Linked DNA regions of Homo sapiens: region 2 is linked to region 1. The links come from fine-mapping of genetic effects on gene expression. A gene starts in region 1. The other region holds a variant in brackets. All regions are shown on one strand. Distances are between the middles of the regions. Region 1 holds the start of RNH1 (ribonuclease/angiogenin inhibitor 1). Region 2 holds the start of PTDSS2 (phosphatidylserine synthase 2).

Region 1 (5,360 bases):
GTCTTGAACTCCCGACCGCAAATGATCTGCCTGCCTTGGCCTCCCAACATGCTGGGATTACAGGTGTGAGCCACTGTGCCCAGCCATTTTTTTGTATTTTTAGTAGAGATGGGGTTTCACCATGTTGGCCAGGCTAGTCTTGAACTCCTGACCTCAAATGATCCGCCTGCCTCGGCCTCCCAACGTGCTGGGATTACAGGCGTGAGCCACCGTGCCTGACCTGAGTATATTTATAGAAGTAGAACAGGCACAGGACTCTCCACCCAAAGTCACCCTGGTGCCTCTCTCCCCGGGGTCTGACTTAGGCCTTCAGCACCACGGTGTTTTCTCTAGATGGCATCTCATGAACACTGGGGGTCTCTTGCCTCAGCCTGTCCCTGGATTCCCTTTCATGGGGAATGTAAAAGCTCCCTATTTAAGCTAACGTGTAGGCTGGTGGGGCTGGATGTGAGGGAGGGGCAGGTGGAGAAGGAAAGGGCAGCATCCCTCAGATCTGTGTGGAGCAGGATCGGAAGGAAAGGCACACTCGAGTCGGCCAGGACCCGGGGAAATGAGCGAGAATGGTCAGCTCTGGGGCGGTATATAAAACTGGGGGTGGGAATACTTCCATATACTCCCAATTCCACAGTGGGTGAACTGAGTAAGTTTAAAAATAAGATAAAGACATAACGAGGTGAGGCAGGTAAGTTCAAAAATAAAAATGAAGGCCAGGCACTTTGGGAGGTTGAGGCGGGCGAATCACAAGGTCAGGAGCTCGAGACCATCCTGGCTAACACGCTGAAACCCTGTCTCTATTAAAATTACAAAAAAAAAAAAAAAAAAAAAATTAGCCGGGCGTGGTGGCAGGTGCCTGTAGTCCCAGCTACTCGGGAGGCTGAGGCAGGAGAATGGCTTGAACCTGGGAGGCGGAGCTTACAGTGAGCCGAGATCGCGCCACTGCACTCCAGCCTGGGCGACAGAGCGAGACTCCATCTCAATAAAATAAAATAAAAATGAAGACATACCTTTCAGGGGCTGTGGCCGCACTGTCCAGGAGGGAGGCCCGGCCACAGACACCATGCTGGCCGTGCGCTCAGCACCTATACATACCTGGGCACCTTCCCCACAAGGTGTCACAAAAGGGAGCCCAACAGCCATTTTAAACATTTTCTTCACTCTTATGAGAATTGCCACGAACAAATCTAAGAGATCATGGCAAAGAAAAGAATGAAATGAAACCAGAACATTTCAGCAGCTTTTGCAAAGATGTCAAGAGAACCAGTCCAGGAGTCAGACTGGCGGCATCCTTCCAGCTTCTTGTCATGAATTCTAAACCTCACATCCAGACTCCAAAGCTTAGAGAGTTAAAGAATCAGCTACTGGTCACCAAGCTCACGTGTGCAGGATGAGGGTCACAGCCAGGTTGGCTGCCTTCCAGCCCTGAGCTTTCTTGGGGGTGTGTGTGTGTGTGTGTGAACCACCTTCTTTTTGAGACGGAGTTTCTTTTTTCTTTTTTGAGATGGAGTTTCGCTCTTGTTGCCCAGGCTGGAGTACAGTGGCACGATCTTGGCTCACTGCAACCTCTGCCTCCTGGGTTCAAGTGGTTCTCCTGCCTCAGCCTCCTGAGTAGCTGGGATTACAGGCATGCACCACCATGCCTGGCTAAGTTTTTGTAATTTTAGTAGAGATGGGGTTTCATCATCTTGGCCAGGCTGGTCTTGAACTCCTGACCTCAGGTGATCTGCCTGCCTTGGCCTCCCAAAGTGTTGGAATTACAGGTGTGAGCCACCGCGCCCAGCCAGAGTTTCATCTTGTTGCCCGAACTGGAGTGCAATGGTGTGGTCTAGGCTCGCTGCAACCTCTGCTTCCCGTGTTCAAGCGATTCTCCTGCCTCAGCCTCCCAAGTAGCTGGAATTACAGGTGCCCACCACCATGCCTGGCTAATTTTTGTATTTTTAGTAGAGATGGGGTTTCACCACGTTGGCCAGGCTGGTCTTGAACTCCTGACCTCAGGTGATCCACCCTTCTCGGTCTCCCAAAGTGTTGGGGTTACAGGTGTGAGCCACCACGCCCGGCCAGAACCACCTTCTTTAAAGATGATCAGGCCGGGTGTAGTGGCTTATGCCAGTAATTCCAGCGATATGGGAGGCTGAAGCAGGAGGATCACTTGAGCCCAATTCAAGACCAGGCTGGGCAACACAGGGAGACCTCTTCTCTACATAAAATACAACAATTAGCCAGGCGTGCTGGCGCCTGTGGTACCAGCTACTTGGGAGGCTGAGGCGGGAGGATCACTGGAGTCCGGGAGGTGGAGGCTGCAGCGAGCTGGGATCGCGCCACTGCAGTACAGCCTAAGCAGTGGAGTGAGACCCTGTCTCGAAAACAAATACCTAATAAAGGCAGTCAGAGGAGAGGTTTAGCAAATTGCTAAAGAACAAATCTGAGATACCGTTAGTTTCCTTACTTGCAATCTTCATCTGCCAAAATGTCAATTCTGTGAATTGCGGACTAGTCAAAAACTTAAAGAAAACCCACTTTTGTGGAGGTGGGGTCGCTTTGCGTTTCCCAGGCTGGTCTGGAACTCGGCCTGCGCCCCTCAGTGCCAGGGCTCCAGGCGACGCTCGGGTGTCGGCAGCAGAGTGGACGCAGGAGCAGCTCGGACCGCGCTCAGAACACTCGGGACGAGGCCGCGGCTCCGCAGGCCTTGCGGGCTGGGGTCCCACGAAACAAAGGCGGCAGCCAGTGGCCAGGACGGGCAGCGTGGTTCACGGGGCCGTGGCTCCCTCGGGGGTCGCGAGCTCGGCGCAAACGAGCCCCTCTACCAAGGTCGCCTAGAGTCGCGACCCCGACATGCGGAGCCGCCCCAGGGGGGTTTCTCCCGGGTCCCTCCTGTCCCGAGGCGGCCGCTTTCTCCGGGGGCCGCGCCCCGCGCCCCAGCAAGGCCCGACCCGCGCCTGCGATTCCGCCCCCAAGGCGCTGCCGCACCGGGCCCCGGCCTCTTCCTCCGAGGATTCTCAGGAATTGCTGAGACTTGCGTGCCAGTGCGAGGCCCACAACACGCACACGCGCCCGCGCCCGCCAGACCCCGCCCCCGGCACCAAGCCCCGCCTACTGGGGGAGACCACGCCCCCAAGCGAGACCTCCCTCACCGAGCCACGCCCCACCAGGCCCCGCCGCTGCGCCAAGACTGTGCTTAGCCGAGCCCCGCCCGCCGGGCCCCGCCCCGACCCCGAGACTACTCCCGCCAGGCCCCGCCCCCGCGCCGAGCCCCGCCCAGTAGTCCCCGCCCACGCACCTGACCACGCCCACGAGCCGGCTCGAACACGCCCGCGCCGCTGACTGGCGGGTGGGGTTGTCGACACGTTCAACCCGTTCTGCTGGCTCGAGAACGAAGTAGGCCGTCTCGCTCTGGGTCTCCAGGCCCGCGACCGTCCGCCAGTCGTCCCGAGGTCAGTAGCTCCAGCGGTGCGTCAGCGTCTAGCCAGGCCTCGCCCACGCCGGCCTTGGTCGGGCTTCTTGTAGACGCGGGCCTGGCGCTATTGAGGCCGTTGCTGCGCGGGCGAGTGGCGCGCTCCCGTGGCGGGGCGGGGTCGGGCGGGGCAGGGGTCCGGGGCTATCGAGGCGGGGCCGAGGTTGCGCTGGGCAGCTGCGCCGCCGGGCGGACGTGGCGCGCCTTGAGGACGTCATCGCGGTGCACGCTCCCCTTTGGGGCTTGCCGGAAGTCCTTGCCCGGGGCGCGGGGCTGCGCCTGCGTGGTTCGTCCTCACGTGGCCGTCAAGCCCTCTAGTGCCTTAGATTCCAGCGAGCTACGCAAGCAATCCTGGCCCAGCCGAGCTTGCTTCCCCAAATCCCGTAATCCTTGACCTTATTCCCCCAAAGAAGCGGCCTCCCGGGAAGGAGCGCCCTGGCGGAGAAGACTCGAACGGCTCCCACAGCCGGGCGTTGGGGGAAAGGTGGGCGGTCTTGGTCGTGCGAGGTCGGGGAGGGAGGGTCCTCCGCTCTCCATTGCGGAGCTTCGCTCCGGGACCACCGGGGGACCGGACGCCGGGCCGCGAAGCTGCCGCCTGGGGCTGCGGGGAGGAGAGCAACATAACTGGAATGGCACTTAGGGGCCGGTGTCAGGGTTGTCACCGGGGTTGGCGGAAATGACGAAGGGGCCCCAGGCACGTCGTGTTACTGGGCGAGGTTCCAGCCAAGGTGCCCACGCGCCTTGGGGGAAACCAGAGGACTTCTGCACCGTTTCCCGAGGACAGTTTGGCAGTGTTTCAGAAGGGCCTTAGAACCAGGCAGGCCCCCTTCTAGGATGGTGGAAAGCCTAAAGATCTGAAAACGGTCTCAAGTGTCGTCTTAGCGATTGGCTGACTAAACCGAATGCAAGCCGGAGACTGCACACGATGTTGCCGTTAACAGTTACACTGGGCCGGGCAGTCAGAGGCAGGCGGATCACCTGAGGTCAGGAGTTCGAGAACAGCCTGGCCAACATGGTGAAAACCCGTCTCTACTAAAAATACAAAATTAGCCGGGCGTGGTGGCAGGCGCCTATAATCCCAGCTACTTGGGAGGTTGAGGTAGGAGAATGGCTTGAACTCAGGAGGCGGAGGTTGCGGTGAGCCGAGATCGTGCCACTGCACTCCAGCCGGCTGACAAGAGCGAAACTCCTTCTCAAAAAAAAAAAAAAAAAAAAAAAGTTACATTAGGCTGGGTGCGCTGCAGCCTGTAATCCCAGCACTTTGGGAGGCCGAGGCGGGCGGATCTCTTGAGCCCAGGAGTTTGCGACCAACATACTGAGTTTGGCCAAAATAGTGAGACCCCCGTCTCTACAAAAGATAGAAAAAATTAGCCAGTTGCGGTAGTGAACGCTTGTAGTCCCAGCTACTTGGGACGCTGAGGGAGGAGGAGCACTTGAGCCCTGGAAGAGGAGGCTGCAGTGAGCTATTTTCTCATCCCTGCTATAACGAATTTGTCACAGGCTGTTTTATAGGCCTGGAGCTCAGAAGCCCGAAGTGAGTTTTAGGAGGTTAAAATCAAGGTGTTGGCAAGGGTAGTTCCTTCTGGAGTTTCCCAAGGAGAATCTGCTTCTTTTCCTCTTCCAACTTCTAGAGGCCACCTTCTTCCATCTTCAAAACCTACTGTCTCTGCATAAGAACTCTCATGATTATATGCCGGCCGCCCAGACACCCCAGGGTAGCCTTCACATCTCAATATTCTTAATATTTGCAAAGTCCCTTTTGCCACTTAAGGTAACACCACAGGTTTGGAGATTAGGAGGTGGACATCTTTCAGGGCCATTCTTATTTTAAAAAATGTACTGTCGATAAGAATAGTTAAAATGTAAAATATTTGAAGGGATTTATTCTGAATCGAATATGAGTGACCGCGGC
Region 2 (5,360 bases), 56 kb after region 1:
ACCTCGTGATCCACCTGCCTCGGCCTCCCAAAGTGCTGGGATTACAGGCGTAAAACTTGACTCCTTTAATACGACTTTCCACGACAGAGACCTTCCTGTGGTTTCTAAAGTGGCCACCAACCCAACACTCACTCCTTGTGTAGCCCAGGGAAACGCTGATCATTGATCAACCCTAACCCAACACCATCTTTCCATTTCCCCAAAACACAGAGATTACCTGAAATATAAAGGTAACCCTTCGCCCCTTCAGGTAAATGTGCACACTGTCATTGAGGTGGCCACCGAGTGCCCAGCACCCTCCTGGCCCTGGGGAAGCAGAAATGGGAATGAAGAGGACCCAACAGGAAGGGAGGCAGAGGGTAAGGGACCCAGAGAAAGGGCACCAGGCACAGCAGCCCTGCAGGAGGACACATCTCAGAGCTGCTCAAATCCAACGCTCCTGGAAAGTAAGGTCCGTATTAGTGAGCTCCAGTCCTTGTCCTACACGCAGCACGACGTCTACACATCTTGGAAGTGACAGAGTGCCGCTCAAGATAGCATGAGACTCTCAAGGGAAGAATTCCGTGTCCCTCCCAGGACGCCAGGTCTGTTCAATGGCTCCTCCCACCCGCCTGCAGACTCTGCAGGACGGTGTATGTCCTGTGATCAGACACAGAACAGAGCTGTGATCAATCCTGGCAATTCAGCCACTTCACTAGGGTGAGGGCGTGAAGACAGCTGGCTCCCTGCCATGGGGAGTGGAAAAGACCCAGCTGCCTCCTTGGAGATGGTCACTCTCATGTCCACTCTCATGGTGGGCAGGGAGGCCGAGACCAAGAGGAAAACGCGGCGTCGTCGTCCAAAGGGCCAAGGAAAGGCCACGCCTGGATGGGCAGCCCAAGGCCTGCGAGAGGCTCCTGGACCGGGCACTGGCCCTTCTGGCTCTGACCAGCAAGACCAGAAAGACTTCATCTGGCTACTCGCGCCTCCCAGGTGTAGGCAAAGCTGGGAAAGCCCCGATCCAGGATGATGGAGAAAGGCATCTTCCAGAAACCTGGGGTATCTGAAGGTCAGAGGTCACCTCACACATAAAGTCCTCAGGTCACTGAGAAGGCTCATTTGAGGCACCCCATTCCAAGACACAAGCATACAATAAAAACTCTCAGAACATCACAGTGGCCCCCAGCTCGGGAACTGGTTAGCAAGTGTGGTCATCCGAAGCTGCTTCAGCGTCTCCCACAGACAGGCGGCAACGTTCACAGGCACCTCGCCAGGGTAAGGGGTCCCCAAGTGTTCTCCCAAACAATTTCCAGACCGCATGAGCTGCCACATCTTCGCACAGGGCTTCTCGGAGTCTGTGGATCTAAACGTTTTCCTCTGGATGTTCCCCATAATTGTCCTTGCTACCCTGAATGAATCCAGAGAAGGAGAGCTCAGCCTCGTGCTCCCAGGGCCAGTCAAGCCCTGAATCGAACCGCACGCCCTATCCCTATGGCTGACAAGCAGTCACAGAGAAACAAAATTCACACATGGCCGCCGTCACTGGCCCGAGGAAGTGCACCCATCCTTGAAAATGAACGCCCTGGCTGGATGTGGTGGTGCATGCCTGTAATCTCAGCAATCTGGGAGGCTGAGGCGGAAGGATCACTTGAGGCCAGGAGTTGAAGACCAGCCTGGGCAACACAGGGGGACCCTCTATTAAAAATAAATAAATAAATAAAAATGAATAAAAAATAAAAAGTAAAACTCTCTAAAACACAAAATTAGAGTTAAAAAAATGCCAGCACAGCAAGTCAGTGCAGGTGGACTCAGGAGGTCAGTGTGAGGCTCTGCAGGTAATGAATTCTCACCAGGCAGGCATTGAGTTACCTGCCACCCAGAAGCGTGAAGCTCCTTCCTCTGCACAGGGAAGGGAGGAGGCACAGCAAGAACCTGCCCCATGCGTCTCTACAGGGACAGGGTCGAGGGGAAAGCCAGAGCCAGAGCCACCCACCCAGAAGACCCAGGAAGGAGGTACCTGGACCAGCCAGCCCCGCTGCACCCGCTCCTGGAGAGCCCTCCTGACCCCCTTGGCCTCCTGACAGGCAAGCTCTGCTGCGCCCAGCCGTCTGTGTCCCAAACACCCCTTGTGGGCAGGGACCACTGGTCTGGGCTTCTAAAGAGACCGGCCCCCTCCTACCTTTGGGCTGCTGCTCCTGCTTCCCTGGTACTGGGTGGGCTGCGCAGGCTTGCATGTGCCCCCTGGCTCCTGCCACACTCAGCACCCAGCCAGCACATTTTGAGCCTTCTGAAGTTCCATGCCTGCACCAGAATCTAAGCTTCTTGTTTAGTTCTCTGCTATGTCCCGTAGAACGGTAACTGACAGGCAGTAGGGGTCCCCACAATGTGCTGAACGGCCAAATGAGAAACAAGAAGAGCCAGTCTGGTCTCCTCGCTCCGGGACCTCAGAGGAGCCCGTCTGTTCTCCTTGCTCCGGGATGTCAGAGGAGCCCGTCTGGTCTTCTTGCTCCGGGACCTCAGAAGAGCCAGTCTGGTCTCCTTGCTCCAGGACCTCAGAGACTCCGGTGGTCCCCAGCTGTGCTGCGGGAGGACAGCCTGAAGGGGTGTGGCAGGGCACCTGATGGAGAGGCCTGATGTCCACAGGGCCCGGAAGCCAGAGGGTCCACGTGGCAGGCACCCCATCTCCTCTCCCTCCCGAGGGCCCCGCAGCCACCCGGTACACTCATCTCCCCAAAGGA[G/C]AGCTCGGATGCCCTCCCTGCAACAGCAGCTGCCCACACCTCACGGAAGACCCTGCGTGGGGCCTCCTCCACCCTAACCTGCTTTCCCACCACTTGGACAGTCTCTCTCCAGAGCTTCGGCTGCGGTGACAGGCCAGGACCGGTTAAGTCCCTGTCTGTGGTGGCGCCTTCCCCTGACAAGTCCCTTACTCCTCCATCAGGCCCTCCTCGCCCCTCAGATTTGCTCTCCGACCATCCCACAGCATGGTTCTCTTGGAAGCGTCCATAAAGCCTTCCTTCCACTGCTGGCCGCAGGCGCCTGTCTCCCACACGTTTTCCTGGGGCTGACCCCACCTCTACTGCCCCTGTGCCCCCGGGCCTTCCACAGGATGGGAACTGGGCACCTTGCAGTCAAGAAGAGCCAAACCCTCCTCTCACGAAGCCTGCTTTCAGGTCGACGGCTTGATCCTTCTCACAGAGGAGCATCGGCAAAGGGCCAGCCCAGGGTCGCAGCTGTCGGGAGTAGGAGCGGCACCTGGAGCCTGTCTGGACACAGAGTGCCACACTCCAGCTGCTCCCGGGGGCCTCTTCCTTTTCCACCCCCATTAAAGGCAGAGTGGCGGACAGGGGGACCCCAAGGTGTAGCTAGGGCTGAGTTGTGCAGGGAGGAGGCGCTGGCCCCGCTAGGGGCAACTGAGGAGAGAAACAGAGCCTGGATTCGACGAACACCGACTACATTCCTGAAGCACGCACAACACTCTGCTAATCAACACGATCGCCACGTGGGGTCGGGCGCGACACACAAGATGATTTCGTGCAGCCGCAAGCACTGAGGAGCAACCACAGGCAGAATGACGGGGGACACAGGTGAAGCTTCGACAGCAGGACAGAGAAAGCGTTTCTGGGGTGACGCTGGAGGCGGGTGGCGGGGAAGGGGTCTGGATCGCAGAACCGCGCGGTCAGAGCCAAGGCGGGCAGGGGTGGGGAGGGCGGCGAGAGAGACGCAAAGCGGCCGCAGGGAGGGTCTGCCCAGGGTCTCCCCCACCTACAGCGCCGCCCTCCGCCCGACCCGGCGTCGGGAGCTCGGTCCGGCCGCTCCCCGGGACCCGGGGGGCGGTGCTGCCACACCCTCAAACCCCCGGCCACAGTCCTGGACTCCAAGACGGCGAGAGGGCGCTGCCGGGGACCCCCAGGCCAGCGGTGCCGGAACCCCCAGGTCGAGGGCACCCTCGCCGCCCCGCGGCCGCCCACTGCCCTCACCAGAAGAAGGTGTTGGTGCCGTCGTCGTAGACCTCGGACTCGGTGCTGCGGCGGCCCTCGCCCGGCCCGGTGGCTTGGCCGGCAGACGGCCCGTCAGGCGGCTCCTCCAGCGAGGCCCTGCCCGCGGGCACCGGGGACTCGGGCCGCGGACCTCCGGCGTCCCTGCGCTCGCCCCTCCGCATGGCGTTTCGGCCCGGAGCCACTCCGCCCGGCGCCTCGACCCCACGCACACCGGGTCACCGGCGAGAGGACGCGCCGCACACAGCGCGAGGAGCGCTGGGAAGGGGTCGCGGCGCTGGCCCGCGGGGTCTTAGGAGAGCAGCGCGGGGCCGGCCAGTAAAGGGTGTGCGGTGCATTGTGGGGCTTGTAGTCCGCGCGGGGCATGCTGGGCCTTGTGGTCCGACGTCGCGGGTTGGACGCAGTGCTTGCTGGGAAGGATGACGCCTGGTTGCTGGGAAACCGGAGCCGGACCGCCCTGCGGCTGAGGTCGCAGGAACCAAGCTGCGGATGGCGCGGGTCTCGCCAAGGCCTCCAGAGCTTGGAGGTAACCACAGACATCCCCGGCGGCCTGGCCCGAGTCCCTCCACCCCTTCGCCCCTTCCTCGCCGACGGATCCCGGAGCCCAGCCCCGTTCTCCTTTTGGGGCGCTTCCCGACCCTTCACCCCATGCGACCCGGGTCATTCCTTTTTGAGACGGAGTCTCGCACTGCCGCCCGAGCTGGAGTGCAATGGCGCGATCCCGGCTCACTGCAACCTCCGCCTCTCGGATTCAAACGATTCTTCTGTCTCAAGCTTCCCGAGTAGCTGGGATTACAGGCGGCCGCCATCACGCCCGGCTAATTTTTGTATTTTTAGTAGAGACGGGGTTTCACTATGTTGGCCAGGCCAATCTCGAACTCCTGACCTTGTGATCTGCCGCCTCGGCCTCCCAAAGTGCTGGGATTACAGGCGCGAGCCACCGCGCCCGGACCGGTCTGGGTCATTCTTTCGCAGGATCGCGTGAAATTGGGCGGGCGAAAATGGTGCGGACACGCTGATTTTAGTTGACCCAAATTGTTGACATGGTACCCTGCAAAAAAATTAGCTCCTGAGCCACTCTGAAAAGCAATGTGGCAGCTCCTCAAACCTGGAAACAAGTGTCCACGCCAAATTTACACACTAGCGCTCCTAGTTGCAGCATTTTGATAATAGCGGCATGTTATTAGCCATAGAGGAGCGAAGCATGCGCATGCTACAGCACAGCTGGACCTTGAAAACATTATGCTAGGCAGGCCGGGCGCGGCGGCGCACGCCTGTCATCCCAGCACTTTGGGAGGCCAAGGCGGGCGGATGACTTGAGGTCAGGAGTTCGAGACCAGCCTAGGCAAAGTGGTGACACCCCATCTTTACTAAAAATACAAAAAT

The links.
Region 2: its variant is fine-mapped to the expression of RNH1 in cerebellar hemisphere (GTEx, PIP 0.97).

The regions. Positions count from the first base shown.
Region 1 is chr11:505,181-510,540 of GRCh38, reverse strand. It overlaps RNH1 (ribonuclease/angiogenin inhibitor 1), which reads left to right and starts at 3,299. Exons shown (of 11, transcript NM_203387.3): 1 at 3,299-3,428. It also overlaps a transcript of LRRC56 not described here. RefSeq lists a cis regulatory region at 3,945 and an enhancer at 3,861-4,030.
Region 2 is chr11:449,234-454,593 of GRCh38, reverse strand. PTDSS2 (phosphatidylserine synthase 2) reads right to left here and starts at 4,315. Exons shown (of 12, transcript NM_030783.3): 1 at 3,957-4,315. The coding sequence starts at 4,138. RefSeq lists silencers at 3,631-3,720, 3,731-3,790, 3,981-4,220 and enhancers at 4,251-4,530, 4,129-4,815. The variant G/C (reference allele first, on the strand shown) is at 2,718.